7 linked regions of the Homo sapiens genome follow. The protein of the gene in region 6 purifies or fractionates together with the protein of the main gene of each other region. This does not show direct contact. Each region holds a gene or a part of one and is shown on either strand. Other genes may lie near its edges. The genes, in order: BLVRA, PUDP, OLA1, LAP3, ENOPH1, PGM3 and NUDT9.

Region 1 (3,500 bases), on a different chromosome or scaffold from region 6:
CAGATAACAGAACAGTGACAGAACAGATAACAGATAACAGAACACCCAAATGTGAGGAGGATGAGAACAGATGTGAGCCTCTCTGGGTCAGCTAGTTCATACACATTAACCCTAATCCTCAGAACCCTGGCAAAAAAAAAAGCTAGTATTAATTCCATTTTACAGACGAAGTGCCTGGAGTTCAGGGAGGGTAAAGCACCCTGCTTCACAGCCAAGGCACTGCGGCACTGCCCTGCAATTTCCAGACTTTCTGGTTCTAGACTCAAACCCAGGCTGTGCCAGAGGCCTTGACAGGTCCTGTCTTACATTCACCCAGAGAGCTTCAAGGATAAACAGGAGACCTGGTGTCCAGTCCTGTCAGTCCTGAACTACCCAAGCAACAACGACGGTCAAACGGGTCATAGGCTGTAGGCTGAATGGTTGGACTTCATCTCCAAGGTCTGCTCCAGCTCTAAATTGCTCTCTGGTTCCCAGAAAAGGAAATTCAGGTAACTCTTATAACAGGCAGAATGATACCCTCAGTCATGATCACAGAATGTAAATTCTGATTATAGCAAGAAGGCCTATCTGACTGACAGATCAAAATGTTTGCCAGAGTGTGTTGGTTAAAGTGTGGTCAGGAATACACTCTGATATTATTGGGGGACTACAAGTGGGTAGCATCTCTGTGGAGGGTAGTGCAGCAATAGCTCTTAAAATTCCAATCTGACCTAGCAATTCTACTGCTTCCTATTTCTTTCTCCAGCCCCCAAACTACATTCAGAAGAAACTGCCCTGAGTCCTTTGACCTTGCAGAAATCTCACTACTACTTGCTCTCCCTTTCTTTTTTTTTTGTAATTAACATATCTATTTGTAACTAATTTAACTTTTCCAAATTCTCATTTGCAAATGAGATTCATATAGTTAAAACTGAATATACAAACAACATATTAGGAGGATCAAAATTTACACTACTCAAACATGACTCCTTAAGACTGACTTTAACATGTTCTTTCAATTTTATTCAAATCAGATGTCCCCCCTCCAGCATTTATCATTTTAAAAAATGAATTTAATGCTATCAAAAGGTGATGTTCACTTTAATCCTGTTTGCCTTCATGTCACTGTCATGAGCCTTCATTCCAGACCACATACATAAAGAGGGCCAGCACCACATGGCCGGTGACCACGGCAACAATAGCAGCATAAAAACAGCTGTCCTTATTGGATATCCCAAGGGCGCCTCCAGATATATAAGATTTAGTTGTGAAATATAAATAACCCGATAGGAACAGTGATCATTAAAGCTGTGAAGAACAGGAGCGTCTTCAGTGTAGATGCTAATGAGCTTTCTTTTCCGAACTTAGGAGGCTGCAGTGCGTTCAGCGCCACTTTATCTGGGTGCTCCACAGTGTAGTTGTGCTGGCACAGGTGCTCGGTGGCAGGCTACTTGCTTTTCTTTTCTAATGAGATCTTAGAGGAAAGTTTTCCTATAAAAGTGGCCTACAGAACATTACTTATGAACTTTATTGTTTTCCTACATAATCTGGGGAAAGCAAAACAAAAGAAAACAAACAAACGAAAGGATGTGGAGAGATGCATATGCACGAGAAAGAAGCCTAAATGGAACTCGTACACTGGGCATCAGGGGTGTACCACCTAGAATAAGTGGCATTGCTGTTTATTTGTTTATTTTTCAGGGTCAGGGTTTTGTTCTTTAACACAGACTGGAATGCAGTGGCACGCATGATCACAGCTCACTGCAACGTCGAACTCCTGGGTTCAAGTGATCCTCCTGCCTCGGCCTCCCAAAGTTCTGAGACTGCAGGCATGAGCCACTGCACCTGGCCACATTGCTGTTTTTAAAGCACATTCAGCTGGGGTACCCCAGCTAGTTGCTCACAGAGCTGTGAGTGACTGGCAGGACCTGCCATGGTCACATAACTGTAACGGCCAGACAGATCCTTTCTGTGCTGTTTCCCCTTCTGCTTTCAACTCCCCCTTACGATAAGATGCACCGTCAGGAGAGGCAGCAATCCCAGGCCAAGCGAGATCTGGCTCCACCTTCCAACTCTCTGCCTGCCCATCACACAGCTCCCTCTCCTTTCCTCCCCATTGTCTGGCCAGGACTAGTTAAACTCTGAACAGAATCAAGGAGGAACTTTATTCTGTATTTTAATATATCTTAAAATATCTAAGACCTAATCCTGTAACAAAAAGGTTTTGGTTTGTTTAGTTTTCCTTTTTTTATTTAAATTTCAAAGGTGTACTATTTAAATGGTCAAACACAAAAACATTCTATTTTCTAACTTTTAGTATTATGCTGAGAAATATTTTCCCAAAAGACTTATATTAAATAGATACATTTTTATTTTCTTTTAGATTTTTAACTTTTTTTTTTTTTTTTTTCCCTGAGACAGAGTTTCACTCTTGTCACTCAGGCTGGAGTGCAATGGTGGGATCTCGGCTCACTGCAACCTCTGCCTCCCAGGTTCAAGCCATTCTCCCACCTCAGCCTCCTGAGTAGCTGGGATTACAGGCGCCTACCACCACACCACCACGCTAATTATTTTTAGTAGAAATGGGGTTTCGCCATGTTGGCCAGGCTGGTCTGGAACTCCTCACCTCAGGTGATCCACCCACCTCGGCCTCCCAAAATGCTGGGATTACAGGCATGAGCTACCACGCCTTGCCTTAACTTTTCTTTATTTACATTTTTATTTTTTAATCAAATCTAAATAGTATTTTGGTATATGGCATGAGATAAGGCTCTAAATTTACATTTCTCCAAATAGTTGAGTTGTTTCTACATTATCGAATATTTAATCCTTTCCCCCAGTGACTCCACATTTAAATTTTTATGAATACAGTTATTCTTTTTTTCACTTTTTTCTGCTGTATCACAGACCTCTATTCCCATGGTTATAACATACTGTTTACATGATTGTGGCTTTACAGTGTTTCAATACCTGGTAATTCAAGTTCTCTCATTAATTTTAGAACATCTTACCAAGTTAAAAAATTCCACTGGGACTGTGACTATGATTGCATCAAATTTATACATTAAATTAGGGTGAATTAATAAGCCTTCCCATCCAGAAACATGGTATGCCTTTCTAAGAGCAGCCAATTTAAAAATAAATAAATAGGCCGGGTGTGGAGGCTCACGGCTGTAATCCTAGCACTTTGGGAGGCCGAGGCGGGCGGATCACTTGAGGCCAGGAGTTCAAGACGAGCCTGGCCAACATGGTGAAACCGTGTCTCTACTAAAATTACAAAAATTAGCAGGGGGTGGTGGCACGAGCCTGTAATACCAGCTATTCGGGAGGCTGAGACATGAGAATTGCTTGAACCCAGGAGGCAGAGGTTGCAGTGAGCCGAGATCACACCACTGCACTCCAGCTTGGGCAACAGAGCAAGACTCTGTCTCTAAATAAACAAATAATTTAAAAAGAAGAATCTTGAGTTAGTTCCTGAATTATTGCATAATGACAAATAACAGCTCAGGCTGCAGTGACTC
Region 2 (3,500 bases), on a different chromosome or scaffold from region 6:
TAGTGGACCCAGGATAGCTTTAGGACAGGGTCTGGACATCAGAAAGACCAAATATGCGATTAGAAGATTAGGTCTGGGCACGGTGGCTCACGCCTGTAATCCCAGCACTTTGGGAGGCTGAGGCGGGTGGATCACGAGGTCAGGAGTTCAAGACCAGCCTGGCCAACATGATGAGACCCTGTCTCTACTAAAAATAGAAAAATTAGCCAGGCGTGATGGCACACGCCTGTAATCCCAGGTACTCAGGAGGGTGAGGCAGGAGAATCGCTTGAACCCGGGAGGTGGAGGTTGCAGTGAGCCGAGATCATGCCACTGCACTCCAACCTGGGCAACAGAACGAGACTCCATCTCAAAACAAACAAACAAACAAACAAACAAGACTGGAACTTTCAGCCCTCCCCCTCATCTCCAGGGAGGGCACCTTGGCCTGGATTGAGTTCAATGAGCAATCGTCAGTGATGTCATCACTCACACCTACGTAAGAAAGCTCCATAAAAACCTCTACATAAGGGGCCTGGGGAGCTTTGAGTTTGGTGAGCACATGGAGGTGCTGGGAGGGTCAGGTGCCCAGAGAGGGCAGGGGAGCATTGCAACCACCCGCCATACATTGGCCAATGCCTTGCTTCCATTTGGCTGTCCCTGAGTTTTATCCTTCATAACAAAGCAGCAAGTGTATGAAAGTGTTTTCCTGAGCTCTGTCAGTCATGTTAGGGGATTATTAGACCTGAAGAGAGGATTGCAGGAACCCCCAATTTGTAGCCAATCAGAAGTACAGGTGGCCCCTGGAACGTGCAATGGGCGTCTTGTGGGACTGGGGCCTTAACCTTCGGGGTCTGGGCTAACCGTAGGAGTCAGTGTCAGAACTGAACTGAATTGCTGGATGCCCACTTAGCTTCAGAGAATCAGAGGCCTGTGTACTGAGGCACAGGTTCCGGCTGCCTCTATAGGCTCAAGGTAGTAAGTTGCACCCTGGGCAAAAAACAAAACAAAACAAAACAACAACAACAAAAAACAGGTCTTTCAAGACTACTCCGGTAGCTCCGCTTTATTGGGAAGGTTTCTGAGTAATTTCCCTGAGCTCGTGATTGGTGTCACTGGTTAGTAATGAGAGGTGAGGCCTGAAAAAGACCTCTCACTGAAAGGCTCTTCCCCACAAACCACAAAAGTCCTCACATGCAGGAACCCAGGGGAAGCAGGCATTTGCAGAGACTCCCCGACGGATGCCCTCCCCAGCTGCTTACACTTACATCGCCAGCGGGAGCCCCCCTTTCAAGGGTGACTTCCTGTGATTCTGGAATCTGTACCTGCAGATCGTTCAGGCCAAGGACTCCATCTTGGCAGTCACAGAACGGTCAGAGGAATCTGGAGCCAGGCCCAGCCACCACAAGCGGTCGGCTCTCTAAACGCTCTGCCCAGGTCACCTGAGGAGGAGCCTTATTTAACAAGAAGAGGGAGCCAGGGGCCGTCTCCACTGCATACCCTGCATGGTCAAGCAGCCGTGGTGCGGGACAGGGGGTGCCACGGCATACAAGCCCACCAGCTGCCACTTTCCAATGGAGAAATGGATGGAAGTCCAAAAACTTGGCGATAAAAACCCAGCGTCACTACACAAGCAAAAACTGCAGCAACCAACGAGCACTCTATAAGCAGTTGGGGAGGGGAAGTGAGTTTTAGTGATTTACATCTGAACTGCAGTGAATACTCACCTTAAAGCCTGCACCTAGACAATAAGACTGTTTTAAGCCCCACATCATTAAAACCGCCGCTTCCCTGGAAAATGTCTGAATAGGCCTTGTTCTGGCACTGTAAGCTTCTCAGATTGTCCCTGAGACCCAGTGGATTCTGGCTGAGTCTCCCTGGCCTGGTGACTTAGGTGCGGCCACGATTCCTCACAAAATCTTCCAACCAGACCATCTCCCTGCCCACATACCCAAGTTCTAGGGAGCATTGCAAAGTGGCCTTCAACAGCACAAACCACAACTTTTCACATTTAGCAAACACTACATGGATATTATTTGGTGGAACATGGTTGTGGAACACGGCCCGTGTCACCGGCACCCACTTACCTTCTCCATAGCAGGAGGGGGAGAGAACCTCTTGGCACAAGCTAGGAAGATGTCCGGGTCTGGCTTGCCATGCTGCACTTCGGGGTCATCTCCCAGCACAATGTGGGAAAACAAGCTGAAGAACTCCTTGTGGCGGCTTGTCTTCATATCGAACGACGCGGACCCCGAGCTGGTGGCCAGTGCAAAGGGGATGCCATGTTTCCGCAGGTGGATGATGAGTTTCTCCGCCCCTGGGGAGGAGGAGGGAAGGACTGAGGTGAGGGGCGAGGCCTCCACCATAAGACCTTCTTGCAGGGACAGTCCCTCCAGCTGTGTGGCAGCACACTCTCAGGCTGCTCCTTTTGAGGAATTTCTGACCTAGGACAGATTGTCTAAAAGCGGTTGTCAGCTCCACAACATCCCTGCTCAAATAAAACAAACCAAAAAATCAAAAAAGCTATTGGCGGTTGAGCGATACGTTTCCCAAAGGAACAGAAGAAGAGCGCACTGGGAGGCACTGCTGCTTTGCCTGCTGGGCCTCCTTATGAAACGTGGAGAAGGGCAGAGAGCAGGCCCAGGAGGTGACTGGACCTGGGATCTGGCCAGGGCACCGGGGAAGGCCCTTCAGCAGGGCCTCGCTGAACCATACTTTTTTTTCCAGAGCAGTAAATACACAAGGACTATGCTTTTGGTGTTTTCTGCAAAAATGCTGTATTCTACAGAAAACACTTCAATCATTCTTCACCCTGCTAAGGAGAGGAAATTACACAAAGGCGTCCACCAGATGCTGAAGAAGGCTGTGGCTGAGGGACTGCTGCAGCGCTACTTAACAAGGGATCAGGGGACAAAAGAAAGCTGCTGAACACAGCTGATCAACAGCAACGTGCCATATGAAAAGAGCATCCTCACACTGTCATTAGCCACACGGATTAACTACAGGGACCACACAGGTCCATGGAGGTCATCATAGAGCCAATCATGAGAGGACTAGTTATCAGAAAGAATCAAAAATACCAGGAGTCCTTCCTACCTTTAACTTATGCGACTAGCACAACAGGAACATCTAAATCCACACAAGGTGTGACGGTTTGCCTAAAATTTCATTTTATTTTTCAGACAGGGTCTCACTCTGTTGCCCAGGCTGGAGTGCAATGGCTGATCTTGGCTCACTGCAACCTCGGCCTCCCAGGTTCAAGCGATTCTCCTGCCTCAGCCTCCAGAGTAGCTGGGACTACAGGCATGTGCCACCACGCCCAGCTAATTTTTGTATTTTTAGTAGAGATGGGGTTTCACCATGTTGGCCAGGCTGGTCTCAAACTCCTGACCTCAGGTGATTCGCCTGCCTCAGCCTCTCAAAGTACTGGGATTACAGGCATGAGCTACCACGCCTGGCCTAAAATTATTTTAAATAATTGTATAATCATGCCTATTTTAATAATGTCATGATTTAATGTC
Region 3 (3,500 bases), on a different chromosome or scaffold from region 6:
ACAAAGGGATGTTGGCAGAAGTATGGTATGGCAGTTTACAGGAAAAAGGCTGCTAGTCAAGTTTGGCCCCCTGACCCTTCGGATAACCAGCTGCCTGGAATTCACAACACCTTAGACCAGCAGCCGCCAACCTTTTTGGCACCAGGGACTGGACCGTGAATTGGCTGATGGAAGCCAATTTTTCCACGGACCAAGGGTGTGGGGGATGGTTTCAGGATGAAACTGCCCCATTTTAGATCATCAGGCATTAGTTCGATTCTCATAAGGAGCGTGCAACCTAGATCTCTTGCATGCGCAGTTCACAACAGGGCCTGCGCTCCTCTGAGAATCGAATGCTGCTGCTGACCTGACCGGAGGTGGAGCTAAGGTGGGAATGCTCACTCGCCTGCTGCTCGCCTCCTGCCATGCAGCCTGGTTCTTCACACGCCACAGATCGGTACCAGTCCCCAGCATGAGGTTCGGGAACCCTAGCTCTAGACCATGAGGATGAGGCCACATCCTAGGGATTGCCAAGCTGTGAAGTGAAAGGAGCATGGGTTCCTGAGGACTTCATAAAGCAGGTCCACTATACCAAGCTATGACTGCAAAATGTACATTTTTACATGAAGAAAAAAAACTGGTTATCTGGGGTTTTCTGATGCTCTTAATTGAACCTAATCCCATCTGATGCAGTGGATAGCAACAAGAAGAGCTATCCCTCACAGAAATAAAGAAGTTTGGAACACTGTATCAAAACGTACTTTCGCCCCCAATATTCTCTAAGCCTCACAACCACAATAATACACTGCTCCAACAGGAGCTCATTTATAAAGGGTCACTCAGGTAAGAAAAAGCAGTACAGAACTAGAAACCAAATCTCCATATTCTTTCTACTTCATTAAAAGAGGTCATTTAATTGCCCAGCACGGTGGCTCACACCTGTAATTCCAGCAGGCGTGAGCCACCACACGGGGCAAGGAGACAGGCTTTTTTGTGTTTTTGTTGTTTTTTTTTTCAGATGGAGTCTCGCTCTGTCACCCAGGCTAGAGTGCAGTGGCGCGATCTCAGCTCACTGATACCTCCGCCTCCCAGGTTGAAGCAATTCTCCTGCCTCAGCCTCCTGAGTAGCTGGGATTACAGGGGCGTGCCACCACACCTGGCTAATTTTTGTATTTTTAGTAGAGATGGGGTTTCACCACGCTGGTCAGGCTGTGAAACCAGCCTCAGGGCAGCATGGTGAAACTCCATCTACAAACAATACAAAAATTAACCAGGCACGGTGTTTTGTGTGCCTGCAGTTCCAGCTATTCAGGAGGCTGAGGAGTAGGGACTGCTTGAGCCCGGGAGATTTAGGCTGCAGTGAGCCATGATCATGCCACCGCACTCCAGCCTGGGCAAGAGAATAAAATCTTGTTCAAAAAACAAAAACATGTCTCCTTATCACTAAATCTACATCCAGCCGTCAAAGGGGAAATATGTATCCCATTAACAAATAATTACTAAATATCTACTATGTTCCTAACACCATCGTGTCCCGTTAACAAATAATTACTAAATATCTACTATGTTTCTAACACCAGTCTAGGCACTAGAAATATACCAATAAGCAAGAACGAGACAATCGGTACCTTCCTACCTTCACAGAATTTAAATTGCAATGGAGGGGAATGTCAAACCACTTATTAAATTAGATAATATATATAAAGTACTCAAAATAGCGATTGGCATATAGTAAATGTTCAATATCTGATTAGCTATAAATATTACCTCTAAGTTTCTGGGTCATCAGCCTTATGCAGACTAAAAAGTAAGCCTTCCTATTCACCCAGCTAAAAACCAAGAGATTCTCTAGATGGTTTTGTACTGAATGTCCTTACTTTTGATCAGCAGGCCATCCTTTAGAGAACCGTCTCCCTCCCACAATCTATATCTTGTAGATCTATACAGAAGCACACAAGTCCGGTCGGATTTCCTTACTCAGGAATTGGAATTACAGGAGAGACAGGAAATGAGAAACACCCAGAAATCCAGGGATTCACATGGCTGAGCTCCACATGGACCCATTTCTGCCAGCACCACTTGGCTCTTATCCCTCTTGAGGCCTGGCTGTTCAGATTGTAATTCACTTATTCCAATAAACCTCTTTTTCCTGCTGAAAACAGCCAGAATTGTGTTGCTTACAAAGAATCCTACCTGATACAGTTGTGTGAAGTAAGATCATTCTACAAAAAGTAGTGTTTACAACCAAATACAATTGCCGAAACTCATTAAACTGTACCTTTAAAATGAGTGAATTTTACTATTTGTGAAGTATACCTCAATGACACTGGGAGGGGAAAGCATTTTATTTAAAAGTGTAAACAGCACACACACTTATTCTGAATAATAAAATATTTTTAGGTTACTTCCACGTACATTAATTTCATTATGCTCTATGACTAAAAAGCTATGGTCGTCCCTCCATAGCTGCAGGGGATTGGTTCTAAGATTCCAGCAGATTGAGTCCCTTATATACAATGGTGTAGTATAATACCTAATGCAATGTAAATGATAGGTAAATAGTTGTTTACTATTTTTTTTACTGTTATATTCTCATTTTTTATTTAATTAAAAAAAAATTTTTTTTTTTTGAGACGGAGTCTCGCTCTGTCACCCAGGCTGGGGTGCAGTGGCGGGACCTTGGCTCACTGCAACCTCCACCCCCCGGGCTCAAGCTGTTTCTCCTGCCCCAGCCTCCCGAGTATCTGGAATTACAGGCTCCTGCCACCATGTCCGGCTAATTTTTGTTGTGTTTTTTTAAAGTAGAGATGGGGTTTCGCCATGTTGGCCAGGCTGGTTTCAAGCTCCTGACCTCAAGTGATCCACCCACCTCGGCCTCCCAAAGTGCTGAGATTACAGGCATGAATCACCATGCCCAGCCAATTTTTTAAAAAAATATTTTTGATTTGAGATTGGTTGAATCCAAGGATGTGAAACCACAGATACAGAGGGTTGCCTATATGTACAGAAAACACTTAATATGGCCCATTTTAATATAGTCCCATTTAAAATCAAGTTGTAGTAACTGCAACAATTCTAGAATGAGAAGTATGTCAATATCTCAAAACTTAACTTCCTTACTAGTGCAATAAAGCTCACAACATAAATAATGATCATAGCTTGCTTTCACGTTTATTGATAGCACCCTACAGTATTTTGATTAATTATTTGTTTTGCTTACATTTCAACTCTCTACTTAGTCTTACTCTGCAAGCAGACTATATCACAGCAGGAAACCCCTTCAAAATGAAAACCTCTTCAAGCTCCAGGAAAGACTGAAATCAGGACAGCCACACTTGCTCATGTTTTACATTACATGAATTTAAGACATGCCTCACTTGGTCACGCCATGCTCTGTTCATTGAGGAATCTCTATGACAGGAGCTCCTCGGAATACCTAAGAACATGATTGTCCTACTTGCCACCAATCTAAAAGGCCACCCTTGATCACTTTCACAAATCCACACTGAATCTGCTACCTA
Region 4 (3,500 bases), on a different chromosome or scaffold from region 6:
AAATTCATGGAAACGTGTGTATACACATGTATAGCATACAGGAAATGGGAGGAACAATAAGTCTGGAAAAACATTCTTCAAAATCCCCCAAAAAAGATACTTCTGCCTTTGCAAGAAAAGCTACTCAGGGGCCGGGAATGGTGGCTCGCGCCTGTAATCCTAGCACTTTGGGAGAACAAGGTGGGCAGATCACTTGAGTCTAGGAGTTTGGGACCAGCCTGGGAAACATGGCAAAACCCTGTGTCTACAAAAAGCTAGCCAGGCATGGTGGCACGCACCTGTGGTCCCAGCTACTCAGGTCGCTAAGGTGTGAGGACCACCTGAGCCTGGGGAGGTCAAGGCTGCAGTGAGACATGATCACGCCACTGCACTACAGCCTGGGTGATGCAGCGAGACCCCATTTCAGGAAAGGGAAGGAAAAGAAAGGCTACCCAGCACTAAAGACAGCACCCTCCCCTAATATGGTTCTGGGGCTCTGCACGCATCCTAGCTGTGGTTATGTGGCCACCACGGGATTCCTGAGGAACGCTGGATGGGGAGTGCTGTGTCTCACATTTACAAACCTGGATGGTCTTCCCGTTTTTGGCTCTAACAACATCCCCCGGCTTGTTGGCCTTGCCGCTGGGCATATTTTCACAAAGAGGGGCCAGACCTATTGGAAATAATATATGAAGGCACACAGTATATACTGGGTCCAAACATGCCACCTATGGGACAAGAGGCCACCTGTGAGCCATGAGAAGCAAGACACAAAGGCCACCTTAACGAACTGATCAAATTTAACATCACCAATGACACAACTGACATGATGTGTCAGCAACAAGAAGTACACATCACCCATGTAGCATTCTTCCCAAAGAAGTCTAACTTGATTCTAATCAAGAAGAAGCAATTCAAATAAATACAAATTGCAGAATATCATGAAACAAGCCTAGACCCTTCAAAACTGCTAATGCCGTGGAAGAAAACAGGAATAGGGTCTAGAATCAAGAAATCTAAAGGGGCACCAACAGCAATGTGTGGTCCTTGATTAGTTTCTGGATTTAAAAGCTAAATATAGGCCAGGCGCGGTGGCTCATGCCTGTAATCCCAGCATTTTGAGAGGCCAAGGCGGGCAGATCACCTGAGGTCAGGAGTTCAAGACCAGCCTGATCAACATGGAGAAACCCCGTCTCTACTAAAAATACAAAATTAACCAGGCATGGTGGCGCATGCCTGTAATCCCAGCTACTCAAGAGGCTGAGGCAGAAGAATCACTTGAACCCGGGAGGTGGAGGTTGTGGTGAGCCAAGATCGCGCCATTGCACTCCAGCCTGGGCAACAAGAGCGAAACTCCATCTCAAAAAAAACCAAAAAACCAAAAAAACCTAAATATAAATAAATAAAATGGACATTTTTTACACAACTGGAAACTTGAATTAGGTTACTGAATTAATCCTCGGAAAAGATAATGGTTTTGTCATTACATAGAATGTCCTTTTTCTTAGAGGACGTGTCGTGATGTCTGCAACTGACTTTTAAATAGTTCAGGAAAAAAAAGGACTATGATAGTGAAGGAGGGGGGCATGTCTGAGACCTGGATTCCAATTCTACCTTCCTTGTGCAATGGACAAGAGTCAGGGCATTATTATTTAACCTAAGACTCTCTCCTCCTTCCCCGTCTCCTCTGAAATGAGTATGAGCAATGCTATTATACAAACTCCCAGTACTGTGCCTGGGAGTTTGTATCTTCCATTACTAAGAACTGCCACATAATGAGCACTTTTTCTGTTCTAGGCACTTTCTGTGTGTTGTGCCATTTCACCGGCCACAATCCTACGAAGCAATCAGTCAATGAGCCAGCAACGTCCTGCCACCCCAAGTACCCAGCAAGTTTCATAATGTCAACTACAAACTTGACATTATGTGCCCCTGACTGCTAGCCACTTTTTGCAGAAGTGAAACAAATCAATTCCAGTTACAGCCCACTGGTTGCAAGATACATTTAGCTCAATCAGCTCAGACAGTAAAACACTTATCTGGGCTAAATAGCTACTGCTTGATGACTATTTAAAAATCATTTCTTATCTTTTCAGATTAGGGGAAATCATATCTGTTGTCTCTCTTCTCCCACCTGGCTAGAATCCAGAAGCGTTATGAGATGTAATCCGTTACCCCACTTACCTATAATATTAATGGGCAAATTAAGCTTTGCAGCAGACACGATGGCTGAGCATATAGTTGCAGCTCCTCCCATGTCAGCCCTCATGAGGTCCATATTTGCAGAAGCCTTGATGGAGATACCACCACTATGGGGAAATGGACAACGTGCAATATTAAGAGCAAAGAAGATGGCCAAAATCACTTTATTTAAAAAGTACAGATGGGCACGGTGGCTCACGCCTGTAATCCCAGCACTTTGGGAGGCCGAGGTGGGCGGATCACGAGGTCAGGAGATCGAGACCATCCTGGCTAACACGGTGCAACCCATCTCTACTATAAATACAAAAAAATTAGCCGGGTGTGGTGGTGGGCGCCTGTAGTCCCAGCTGCCACCATGCCTGGCTAATTTTTTTGTGATTTTAGTAGAGATGGGGTTTCACCTTGTTAGCCAGGATGGTCTCGATCTCCTGACCTCGTGATCCGCCAGCCTCGGCCTCCCAAAGTGCTGGGATTACAGGCATTAGCCATCGCGCCCAGCCTTTAGCTCATTTTATTTCTACTTGAATGAAATTTAAACAGTGCCACTGGAAACATTACTATATCATAAAATCAAGACTGTGCAAATTCCATCTCTGTATTGTCTGATTAACTCCTGACACCCACATAGTCTATTCAGCAAATTTTATGAATTGATCAACTTATGGAACGTGAAGGTCATGAGCTGTTAAGAAAAGCTGATGAGCTCACAGAGATGACTGGAGGCATTTCTCTGAAACCGACAGGACAGAGGGCTAACATTTCCTTCCAACACTGCACAAGGTGTGCTATATCCTGCTGATGGCAAAATACAACCTAAATGAGGCACAGGCCCAATGGCTGAGAGACAGTACTTCAACATGAGAACTGAATAAGGCTGCAATTAGCAAGAAACCAAACTACCTGACCCCCAGAGGCTTCTAACTAGCTAGTGGTTTTTCTGCTTCCAGTCCGTAGGAGTCCAGAAGCAACATGCTTCACAGGCCAAGCACAGAGCCAGGGGCTTCGACTCTAAGTTCTAATTGAGATCTGCTGCTCATGTGCCCTGGTGGCTCACTGGAGAGAGGTCTGCCTGCTGCTCTGAAGTCTGCTTTCCTTCAAAATTAAATCCTAATTCTCACTTACCTCAGAAGCACTTGTTACTTAGATGGTTGGCATGTTCACCAAGAATTAAAGATGATCCCCTGGCTCAAAGAAGAAAAATAACATGGGTAAACCCCATGGACAAAGGGAACACGCTGTTGTATTTGAAGTTTTTCTTCTGTCCACCTGCCACATTTATCTGCAGGCCTCTTCTGGAAGTTCTGCTCTCTAATTCCTAT
Region 5 (3,500 bases), on a different chromosome or scaffold from region 6:
GTTGCAAATACTGAATTCTGCCATTGTGATGCAAAAGTAGCCACAGACATTATTTAAATAAATGAGTGTGGCTATGTTCCAATAAAACTTCATTTACAGAAATAGGCAGTGGACTTGATTTGGCCTGCAGGTTGTAGTTTGCCGACTCTTGGTCTAGTTTATTTGTTTCTTGGCCTCTGTCTCTCTTTCTTGCTCATATTCACAGCAGCAATTTTCATAGAGTTCCATTGATTTATTTGTTACAGTTATGTAGGTAAGATTGTGGAAGAACTGGATCTTTTACAACTGATAAAAGCTAACTCTTGTATTTTCTTTTACTCTTTTATCCAGGACATTTTATTTCCTTACATCGAAGAAAATGTTAAAGAGTATCTGCAGACACATTGGGAAGAAGAGGAGTGCCAGCAGGATGTCAGTCTTTTGAGGAAACAGGTTGGGACATTTCTGTCTTAAATTCCCAAGTGTCTTAGAAATGAGGGTACCTGGAGATTTAGGACATGCTCTGAGCATTTTGTAAAATAAGTGCCCTGGTTTGATAGGGGATAGAAGTTGCAGTGACTTAGTGAGTTGCCTGCTTAGGAATTCACAGTACATAATTAAAGGCTGGATCATGTCAGTTTGTTGTTTCTGGAGTTGCTCTTTGGTTGTTTTTTTTTGTTTTGTTTTGTTTTGTTTTTTTTGTTTTTTTTTGAGATGGAGTCTCACTTCGTTGCCCAGGCTGGAGTGTGGTGGTGTGATCTTAGCTCACTGCAACCTCGCTTACTGGGTTCAGGCGATTCTCCTGCCTCAGCCTCCCGAGTAGCTGGGACTACAGGCACCTGCCACCATGCCCAGCTAATTTTTTGTATTTTTAGTGGAGATTGGGTTTCACCGCATTGGACAGGCTGGTCTAGAACTCCTGATTTCAAGTGATCTACCCTCCTCGGCCTCCCAAAGTGCTGGGATTACAGGCATGAGCTTACCACCCCCAGCCCACCCAAAAAGGGCTTAAGTTTGCAAATATATGATATTGTTAGGCAATTTAAATAGCTCTAGAAAAAGGCAACTCTAGGCTGGGCACGGTGGCTCACACCTGTAATCTCAGCACTTTGGGAGGCCGAGGTGGGTGGATCACTCGAGGTCAGGAGTTTGAGACCAGCCTGGCCAAAATGGTGAAACGCTGCCTCTACTAAAAATACAAAAAATTAGGCCGGGCGCGGTGGCTCACGCCTGTAATCCCAGCACTTTGGGAGGCCGAGGCGGGCGGATCACGAGGTCAGGAGATCGAGACCATCTCGGCTAAAACGGTGAAACCCCGTCTCTACTAAAAATACAAAAAATTAGCCGGGCGTAGTGGCCGGCGCCTGTAGTCCCAGCTACTTGGGAGGCTGAGGCAGGAGAATGGCGTGAACCCGGGAGGCGGAGCTTGCAGTGAGCCGAGATCCCGCCACTGCACTCCAGCCTGGGCGACAGAGCGAGACTCCGTCTCAAAAAAAAAAAAAAAAAAAAAAAATACAAAAAATTAGCCGGACATGGTGGCGGGCACCTGTAGTCACAACTCCTTGGGAGGCTGAGGCAGGAGAATTGCTTGAACGTGGGAGGTGAAGGTTGTAGTGAGCCGAGATGGCGCCACTGCACTCTAGCCTGGGCTACAGAGCAAGACTCCGTCTCAAAAAAAAAGAGTCCTTTCTGGGTAGAATGCAAAAGGTTTTGAGCAGTCTCTACATTTTTTATTAACGTCTCTATATTAGTCTGTTCTCACATTGCTGTAAAGAAATACCTGAGAGTGGGTAATTTTTAAGAAAAGAGGTTTAATTGGCTCACAGGTCTACAGGCTATACAGGAAACATAGCGGCATCTGCTTCTGGGGAGACCTCAGGAAGCTTCTAATCATGATGGAAGGCAAAGCCGGAGCAGGCGTCTCAGATGGTGAAAGTCAGGAGCAAGAGAGTGGGGAGGGGAGGTGCTACACACTTTAAAACAACCAGAACTCACTATTGTGAGGACAGCATCAAGGAGGATGGTGCTAAACAAACCATTCACGAGAAGTCTATCCCCGCGATCCAGTCACCTCCCACTAGGCCTCACCTCCAGCACTGAGGATTACATTTCAATGTGCAATTTGGGTGGGGACACACATCCAAGCCATGTCATTCTCCATATGACAGTACTTCATCATTTTGCACTCCCTCCTTCCTTACTGCAAGCCCCTGCTGCCCCCTCTGCAGTGCTCCTGGGTCCTCACACTCACACTCCCCTTCCAGACTCCTCACCCCAGCTCACTCTGGCCCAGCCCTCATACCTCCTTTGGTCTCCTGTGCTTTGTTCTACCCTCTTCTCCCCACCAGTCATCAGTCTGTCTTTTCCTTCCACATTGTGTGCTATGGAACTCCTGCTCTGTTGTTTTTCTTGTTAAAATTGCTTCAGTGGCAAAGATCTTACATGGTCTGCAGAGCTAACTCACTGGCAGTTATTTTCTAGTTCTATATTGGATACTGTGGAATGCTCTCTGTGGATGTTTTACTGTTAGGAATTAGGATTCAAAATGTAGTTATGTCCTTTGGGCATGGAATATTTGGGATTTTAATTTTCTGGATAACTCAGGGTTAATCTGAAATACAGTGAGTCCTTACTTAATGTTGTCTTTAGGTTCTTGGAAACTAAGTGAAATGACACTTAAATTTCAATTTTCAATTTTAAACCAACCATAACAAAACCAATTTTTTCTCCACATAAATGTTATAACAAAATGATGTTGAAGGAAATGACATTACTTGAGAAGGTCATGCCACTTGAAGTCACAGTTTCCAAGAACCTTTCAATGATGTTAAATGAGGACTTACTTTACTTTCCTCCCTTACCTTTTTTTGTTGTCAAAACCTTGTTGAAACATACATACATAGTCCCCCATTATTGTATATAAATATGTACACATGTATCTTTAGAAATTGGACTGCTTTGTCACAAGGTCATTGTTCTAAGTGGCTACTAGGATTTTTGCAAGATGTGGGAGATTATAGGAGACTGAATGTGAACCAACCTCATTACTTCACTAGCTTCTTTTTGCTGAATTCCAGGCATAAACTAATTTATGAGATTTTCTTTGTTTCTTTCTCCATTAGTTATAGTGCAGAGAAAATTATCAGATTGAGTTAAAGTCCTGGTTTGTTGATCCCAGTAGTGAATCAACAAATCAAATCTTAATTCTATCATTATGTGCTCTCTCTTCTCATATACAACATGCGTCTCAGTTTAAATTTCAGCTTTTAGCAAAAGGAAAGGTAATGTAAATTTATTAATCCAGGTTCTTTTAGGAATCATTTGTATCAGCTCCAAAGTATATGATGTTTCAATTTGCAGCCATACTAGGGCTAATGATGGAGAAAGTTGTTCTGCTGGGTTTTTGGGTCTCGTTTTAAATGACTGTTTTTTGAATAAGCAAAAAACAAACATCATGTTGTTTCTGACTTAAAGGCTGAAGAGGACGCCCACCTGGATGGGGCTGTTCCTATCCCTGCAGC
Region 6 (3,500 bases):
GGTGAGAGAGATGAGGGTCTCCTTATAAGACACGAAAGATTACAAGTGGGGGCGTGACATGACCTAACTGTTTTAGAAAGCTGTTTAGCTACAGTGTGGAGAATAGCTTAGAGCAGAATTGCAAGCTTTTTCTGTAACAGGCCAGACAGTAAATATTTTAGGCTTTGCAGGCCATATGGTCTCTGTCACAATTACTCTGCCATTACAGTGCAAAAGCAGCCACAGACCATACATAAACAAATCAACATAGCTCTATTCCAATAAAACTTTGTTTGCAAATAGCAGCAAGTTCAATTAGAAGGTTAAGAAATGGAATGAGGAGGCTTCTAGGACTAATCCCAGTAAGAAATAGTGGCTGGATCAGCAATAGTGAATAGGGAAAGTCATGGATGGATGGATCTGAGAGAGCTTTAAGAATGGTTAAGGAAAGATTGATAGTAGAAAAACTGCAAAAGAAAGATCAGCATTAGATTGGATGTAGGAGACCTCAGGAATGGCAAGGGCTAAAAATATTTCATCTGGAAGACAGTGAGTTGAGAAGTAACAGTTTCTTAAACTAGGTTATTTTATCTGTAATAAATTTTTAAGACAGAAAATGAAAATCCTAAAACAATAACCCAAGTACTGTGAAATAACCCAATCCCTGTGAAAGGCAGGCAAATGGGCCCCAGATGGAATCCCTTGAATGAGCTTATTATAACCATATATTAAAATCAGGTCATAAACTAGCAGCCTCAAGATATATTTCGTTTTGCCCAGCCACTGTTTCTTTTTAAACAAATAGGAACATCACATGAAAATTCAGATTTCCTGCTTCTCTTGAAGAGTGTGACTACAGTTGACATCAGCTGGCACATACTGACCTGTTTTTAGCCCCCTGCTGCCCTCATTCACTTTACCTGTCCAAATCCTGCAGGAATCTGACTTTGTAATTCCTGCTTTCTAGAGAATGGAAAGGTAACTAAAACTAGTATAAATGCCAGAACGAGGTACAAAATGAGGTACAAAAAAGTTGGAAAACTTCTCGATAATGAGAAAGTATAGGCAAACAGACTTCCAGTTTTGTCCATGAACCCTGGTAACTCTCCGAGCAAGTAGTGTGGTGCCAAGGGTGGTCACCTGGTGGACACCGGGGAAATAATTAGAAACAGAATCTCCCACCACCCCAGAAAACCTCTCCAAAAAAAAAAGAAGGGTAAGAAACAGTTTTATTACTGAATAAGTATTAAGCCAAACTGATGTTCAATCACAGGCTAATTTGCTAAGAGATAGCAAAGATAAACGCTCACCCTTTAATATAGCCAAGCGGACACATTCCAATACAATTTGCTAAGATAAAAGATGGCTAATGACAAAAATTCTCTCCTTGACCAAACTTTAGTTAGGTTTAGGTGGGCCTGACTAGGCCTTGTCCTTAGGCATGTCTTCCAATAGCCCGATTTTAATAAGAGTCATGCTAAGTGAGCTTAGCGAGAATCCCTCATCCTGATACATGACCACTCTTGACATCTGATCTGAGTTCTCATTCTCTACCATCCCCCAGGTAATATGTGACCGCCCTGGCCTACCTTCAGCAAAAGTCCTGTTAGATCAGTTTAGCCAAAATACCACCCACTTACCCTCATGTTTCCTCTCAGTAATTTTTCATCCACTGACCACCCCCCACACACCCTGCTCCTTGGCTATAAAGCCCTACTTTTCCTTACTATATTTGGAGTTGAGCCCAATCTTTCTCCTACCACTGCAAAACTCCATCACATTAGTCCCTGTACCTATCACAACAGTCCTGAATCAAGTCTGCCTTACCATTTTAACAAGTGTCATGAATTATTTTTTCTTTAACACTAGTCCTCAAATAGGAAAACTTGAAACCACCATTTGTCACACACATAGTTTATCCTAAACTTACTTGGTAATAGGGATGGCCACCTGTGTTAACTGCCCTTCTCTAAAGGAGTAATAAAACTTTTCATACCTCTGTGACAGGTAGATAGTTACAAATTGGACGCAAACACCTAAGTTAAACTCTCCTGAGACTGGGAGATAGGTGAGCTATCTTCCTTGATGTTTATATTTGAAATTGGTGACTCTAGGCCCTTAAAGAAAAGTATTCCTGAGCTATAAAACTGGCTTATTAGGCCTTTAGAAAGACTTACATTCATTACAAAGGCACAGAGAAAGAATTCCAAGTTTTCTAAAGGAAAACTCCAAGAAAAGGAAGGAAAGAAGTTTTCCTTTATTCATCAAGGACAACTAAATTTTTTCTTATTTATTTCTCTTTACCTTTACATGAACAGCAGCTCAGCTTCATGCACTACAACATAATCACTTTTATGAGGGCAGTATCTTTCTCACAGAAACATGATCTTAATTAAGAAACTACCAGAAAACAAAAATGGTTCAATACCTTCATAACTTCTTCAAGATACCGTGTTGAACTTCCATTTGCATATGCAGTTTGTACAACACCAATATTCAAACTTTCTCCAATCTAGACAAAAACAATGATACTTAACTTGCCATCAAAAGTATGGTCTACAAAAACAAATATAATGAGAGTTCTAAAGGCTACCAAAATTATCAGCCAGTTCAGTTGTGCCTTAGTTTATGCCAAAAATGTCTGACTGAAAATTTACATGTATGCCAGGAAAAAAGCCTAAAATACATTTGAACACTATTTAAAACAATTCTATGAGAATTCCTCTTTTAAGAAGCCTGTATCTCCTGATCTTCACCTCTTTAATTTTTTAAATAAAAGTATCTGGCCAGGCACGGTGGCTCACGCCTGTAATCCCAGCACTCTGGGAGGCCAAGGTGGGTGGATCACCTGAGGTCAAAAGTTCGAGACCAGCCTGGCCAACATGGTGAAACCCCATCTCTACTAAAAGTACAAAAATTAGCCAGGTGTGGTGGCATGCATCTGTAATCCCAGCTACTTGGGAGGCTGAGGCAGAAGAATTGCTTGAGCCCAGGGAGGCAGAGGTTGCAATGAGCCGAGATCACGCCCCTGCACTCCAGCCTGGGCAACAGAGCAACACTGTCTCAAAAAAAAAAAAAAAAAAAATCTATTAAATTCTTAAAGTATGCTGTTTCCAGATTATAATAATTTCCAATTACATTGTGTACTTAAAGCTAGCCTGAGATTTATTTCTAAAATAGCAAAATGAAACAAATCTCACATTACTAAGCTTATCATAATCAGTTAATATATCAGATGATGAGATTTCCTATTAGAATTTAGGGCTTTTATGGAGTGACCACAGAACTGTCATCAAAGTTTCAATTATGATGGAAGCAAAACTTCCTAAAGCTTCAAATCACAAAACTCAGCCAGTATAAGGAGGAAAAGAGTACCTTCAGGTTCCAAAGCCAATGCCTCAAATGTTCAAATGACTGGGTATTACCACTGCTCTTTTTTTAATTTTCTGCCCACTAATGTAAAGAATTTGTCATAAATTGTGCCCTTCTGACAAATGATTGTAAAATATGGAACTATTTCA
Region 7 (3,192 bases), on a different chromosome or scaffold from region 6:
TTTTCAAACATCTGAAGGAAAGAAAACAATAATGTCTGTCTCCCCTAAAGCTTTTCCTGAGATGCTCCAGCTATAGCCCAACCCTACTTAGGTGGATAGGAGTTCCTATCACAGGGCTTTCCAACAGAGATCCTTAGCCAGAATGAGATAAACATGTCCACTAAGACAAGGCAGTACTACTTTTCTTTCCTTTTCCTTGCTTCCAAAAACCCCCAAAGCACCAACCCCCTCCTTTCCTCTGGGATTTATAACATTAACCATGCTTTTCTCAAAAATCTATTTCAATCTTTAACATTTCTTTCCTAACAAAAAAACACTAACTCACAGAGACCTCCACCTCTGTTCCTGTTTTTATAGAACCAAAATAATTACTTAATAATTATATATTGATCACATATTAAGATATTTTGGATATAATGGATTAAATAATTACAAACCATTTTACTTGTTTCTTTTTATTTTTAATGTGACTACCAAGAAGTTTAAAATTCACACATGGCTAACATTTTCCTTTGTGTTTATTTTGTTGTTAAGTACAGGGGTACATGTGCAGGTTTGTTACATAGGTAAACTTGTGTCATGAGGGTTTGTTGTACAGATAATTTCATCACCAAGGTATTAAGCCTAGTACTCATTAGTTATTTTTCCTGATCCTCTCCCTCCTCCCACCCTCCAATAGACCCCAGAATGTGTTGTTCCCATGTCCATGTGTTCTCACCATTTAGCTCTCACTTATAAGAGAACATGCAGTGTTTGGTTTTCTGTTCTTGCATTAGTTTGCTAAGGATAATGGCCTCCAGCTCCACCCATGTCTTTTCAGAGGACATGATCTTATTCTTTTTTACGGCTGCATAGTATTCCATGGTGTACATATACCACATTGTCTTTATCCAGTCTATCACTGATGAACATTTAGGTTGATTTCATGTCTTCGCTATTGTGAATAGTGCAGCAATGAACATACACGTGAGTATGTGTTTATAATAGAACAATTTATATTCCTTCGGGTATATACCTAGTAATGGGATTACTGGGTCAAATATCTTTAAATATTTGAGGACTCTCTACACTCTCTTCCACAATGGTTGGACCAATTTACACTCCCACTAACAGCGTATAAGCATTCCTTTTTCTCTACAACCTCACTAGCATCTGTAATTTTTTGTCCTGATTTCAATTCTTTTCTGAACATCCATTTTTAACTAATTTACAACATATAGTAGTTTCACTAGAGTGAAATGAACATACTGATTTAAATTACTAACTTCCTGGACTTTTTTTAATTCAGAATTTTTGAAAATGAGAGTATCAGCTCTTGTTCACTGATTTTGATCTCTATTGACTAGTGGCTGAAATTTCCTCTTAAAACTAATGCTTCTAAAGTCAAGAAAACATAGTTTCCATTTTCAAAATTAGCTTCAACAAGATCATGTGAAGCAAAATGTGAAGGAAATAATTTAAAGAAAAATCAGATGAAACATTAAACTATACATCCAGTGGCGGTACTCTGCCTAAAGGAGTTTGATGTGGCAGGAACATCCTTCAGGCCTCAGAAGATGGGGAGCGGGAGGGAAGGCATTGACAAACAAGAACTAGATGAAACAGAAGTTATAGCTGATCAAGAATTTATCTTTATTCTGATTATGATTCTTCAAAGAGCATTAGTTGTTTAAATTTAATTTAAGCCATGCTTAAATCGAATACATACAAAATATGATTACTTATATTCCTTTTGACCAAAGAGCTGAAAATTTTGTGTTCCAGTTCATCTTACTCATGTTATTCTGATGCGAAACACTCTAAATGCAAATTGTTTTGAAAGTAAATAGGCCAAGTGGCCTACCCTGCCCTTTTTATAGTATAAATTCTGTGATACTGCCTTCTTTTCAGTATATGCTCCTCTGTGGGCCTTTGGCTTACACGGAGACCATCAGCTACAACGCATGGCAGTCAGCTTCAGAGTCCTCGCTCCAGTGTGCATCTCGTTTCTCAGCCACAAGTTTGATGAATTGAGAGTGACTGGCATAAAGCTTCAGTTTATCATTGATGTCCACCCATTTCACTTTTCCAGCATCATCTCCAGCTTCTAGCATAAGATTATCCATTATCTCACCTGGTTGCCAAAGAAAAACCATCACCAAGAAAAACTCATTTCTGTTTTAGCATATCTATGTCGTCAAGTATTCTTATTTAAAATAATCTTATATCATCATTGTACTAGCCGGCCAAGTGAATTAAAAACTAGACCATTCCATCCCTGGTCAGCAGAATGAATAAAAGAAAAAAAACTAGAGTATTCCAAAATGTCCAAATTTTAACCAAGTCCCTAAATTTTAGATAAACACAAAGAGTTTTCTCTAAAAAGATTATCCTTAAAAACGAGATTATATTACATGAATATGAAACCTTACATCAAAATCAGTCCAAGAGGGATGAGAGATTTAAATGTAAAAAAATAAACAAAGCTGAGGCGGGTAGATCACCTGAGGTCAGGAGTTCGAGACCAGCCTGGCCAACATGGTGAAACCCCATCTCTACTAAAAATACAAAAATTAGCCAGGAGTGGTGGCACATGCCTGCAGTCCCAGCTTACTTGGGAGGCTGAGGCAAGAGAATTGTCTGAATCCATGAGGTGGAGGTTGCAGTGAGCCAAGATCACACCACTGCACTCCAGCCTGGCAACAGGGTGAGACTCCACCTCAAAAAAAAAAAAAAAAAATTTAAATTATCAAAAAAATAAAAAATAAGTGCTCCCAATCACTGCTGGGAATATAAATGGAATATTTCTGTAGGAAATTTGGCAATGTTTATCAAGAGCTTTTAAAAAGTAAGTTTTCTTTGACAAGCACTCATTCTGTAAATATCAGAGTGCATCTTGTGTGCCAGACTGTACTAGGCACTGAAGATACAATAAGCAATCCAGTAATTCCTCTTTGAAGAATTTATTCTGATGAAATAGAGACAAGCCTATTAAAGTATTCAAGGCAACATTACTTAAATATTTTATTTTATTTTATTTATTTTTAGATGGAGTCTCGCTGTTGTTGACCAGGCTGAAGTGCAGTGGCACAATCACGGCTCACTGCAACCTCCGCGTCCTGAGTACAAGCGATTCTCCTGCCTCAGCCCCCCGAGTACCTGGGATTACAGGCATCTGCCACCACGCCCAGCTAATTTTTTTGTATTCTTAGT

The links.
Region 1: the proteins of PGM3 (region 6) and BLVRA fractionate together in Homo sapiens (co-fractionation; one large-scale study listed by BioGRID). This does not show direct contact.
Region 2: the proteins of PGM3 (region 6) and PUDP fractionate together in Homo sapiens (co-fractionation; one large-scale study listed by BioGRID). This does not show direct contact.
Region 3: the proteins of PGM3 (region 6) and OLA1 fractionate together in Homo sapiens (co-fractionation; one large-scale study listed by BioGRID). This does not show direct contact.
Region 4: the proteins of PGM3 (region 6) and LAP3 fractionate together in Homo sapiens (co-fractionation; one large-scale study listed by BioGRID). This does not show direct contact.
Region 5: the proteins of PGM3 (region 6) and ENOPH1 fractionate together in Homo sapiens (co-fractionation; one large-scale study listed by BioGRID). This does not show direct contact.
Region 7: the proteins of PGM3 (region 6) and NUDT9 fractionate together in Homo sapiens (co-fractionation; one large-scale study listed by BioGRID). This does not show direct contact.

Annotation. Positions count from the first base shown.
Region 1 is NC_000007.14:43,765,180-43,768,679, reverse strand, and holds part of BLVRA (biliverdin reductase A), read right to left. Parts: intron 1,427-3,500; exon of another isoform or gene 977-1,426; intron 1-976. UniProt on the Homo sapiens protein: Reduces the gamma-methene bridge of the open tetrapyrrole, biliverdin IXalpha, to bilirubin with the concomitant oxidation of a NADH or NADPH cofactor. Does not reduce bilirubin IXbeta.
Region 2 is NC_000023.11:7,075,154-7,078,653, forward strand, and holds part of PUDP (pseudouridine-5'-phosphatase), read right to left. Parts: intron 2,297-3,500; coding exon 2,067-2,296; intron 1-2,066. UniProt on the Homo sapiens protein: Dephosphorylates pseudouridine 5'-phosphate, a potential intermediate in rRNA degradation. Pseudouridine is then excreted intact in urine.
Region 3 is NC_000002.12:174,242,033-174,245,532, forward strand, and holds part of OLA1 (obg-like ATPase 1), read right to left. Parts: intron 1-3,500. UniProt on the Homo sapiens protein: Hydrolyzes ATP, and can also hydrolyze GTP with lower efficiency. Has lower affinity for GTP.
Region 4 is NC_000004.12:17,594,198-17,597,697, reverse strand, and holds part of LAP3 (cytosol aminopeptidase), read right to left. Parts: intron 2,289-3,500; coding exon 2,164-2,288; intron 653-2,163; coding exon 564-652; intron 1-563. UniProt on the Homo sapiens protein: Cytosolic metallopeptidase that catalyzes the removal of unsubstituted N-terminal hydrophobic amino acids from various peptides.
Region 5 is NC_000004.12:82,447,590-82,451,089, forward strand, and holds part of ENOPH1 (enolase-phosphatase E1), read left to right. Parts: intron 1-330; coding exon 331-432; intron 433-3,453; coding exon 3,454-3,500. UniProt on the Homo sapiens protein: Bifunctional enzyme that catalyzes the enolization of 2,3-diketo-5-methylthiopentyl-1-phosphate (DK-MTP-1-P) into the intermediate 2-hydroxy-3-keto-5-methylthiopentenyl-1-phosphate (HK-MTPenyl-1-P), which is then dephosphorylated to form the acireductone 1,2-dihydroxy-3-keto-5-methylthiopentene (DHK-MTPene).
Region 6 is NC_000006.12:83,176,266-83,179,765, forward strand, and holds part of PGM3 (phosphoacetylglucosamine mutase), read right to left. Parts: intron 2,492-3,500; coding exon 2,408-2,491; intron 1-2,407. UniProt on the Homo sapiens protein: Catalyzes the conversion of GlcNAc-6-P into GlcNAc-1-P during the synthesis of uridine diphosphate/UDP-GlcNAc, a sugar nucleotide critical to multiple glycosylation pathways including protein N- and O-glycosylation.
Region 7 is NC_000004.12:87,456,764-87,459,955, reverse strand, and holds the end of NUDT9 (ADP-ribose pyrophosphatase, mitochondrial isoform a precursor), read right to left. Parts: intron 2,114-3,192; coding exon 1,935-2,113; 3' UTR 501-1,934; downstream 1-500.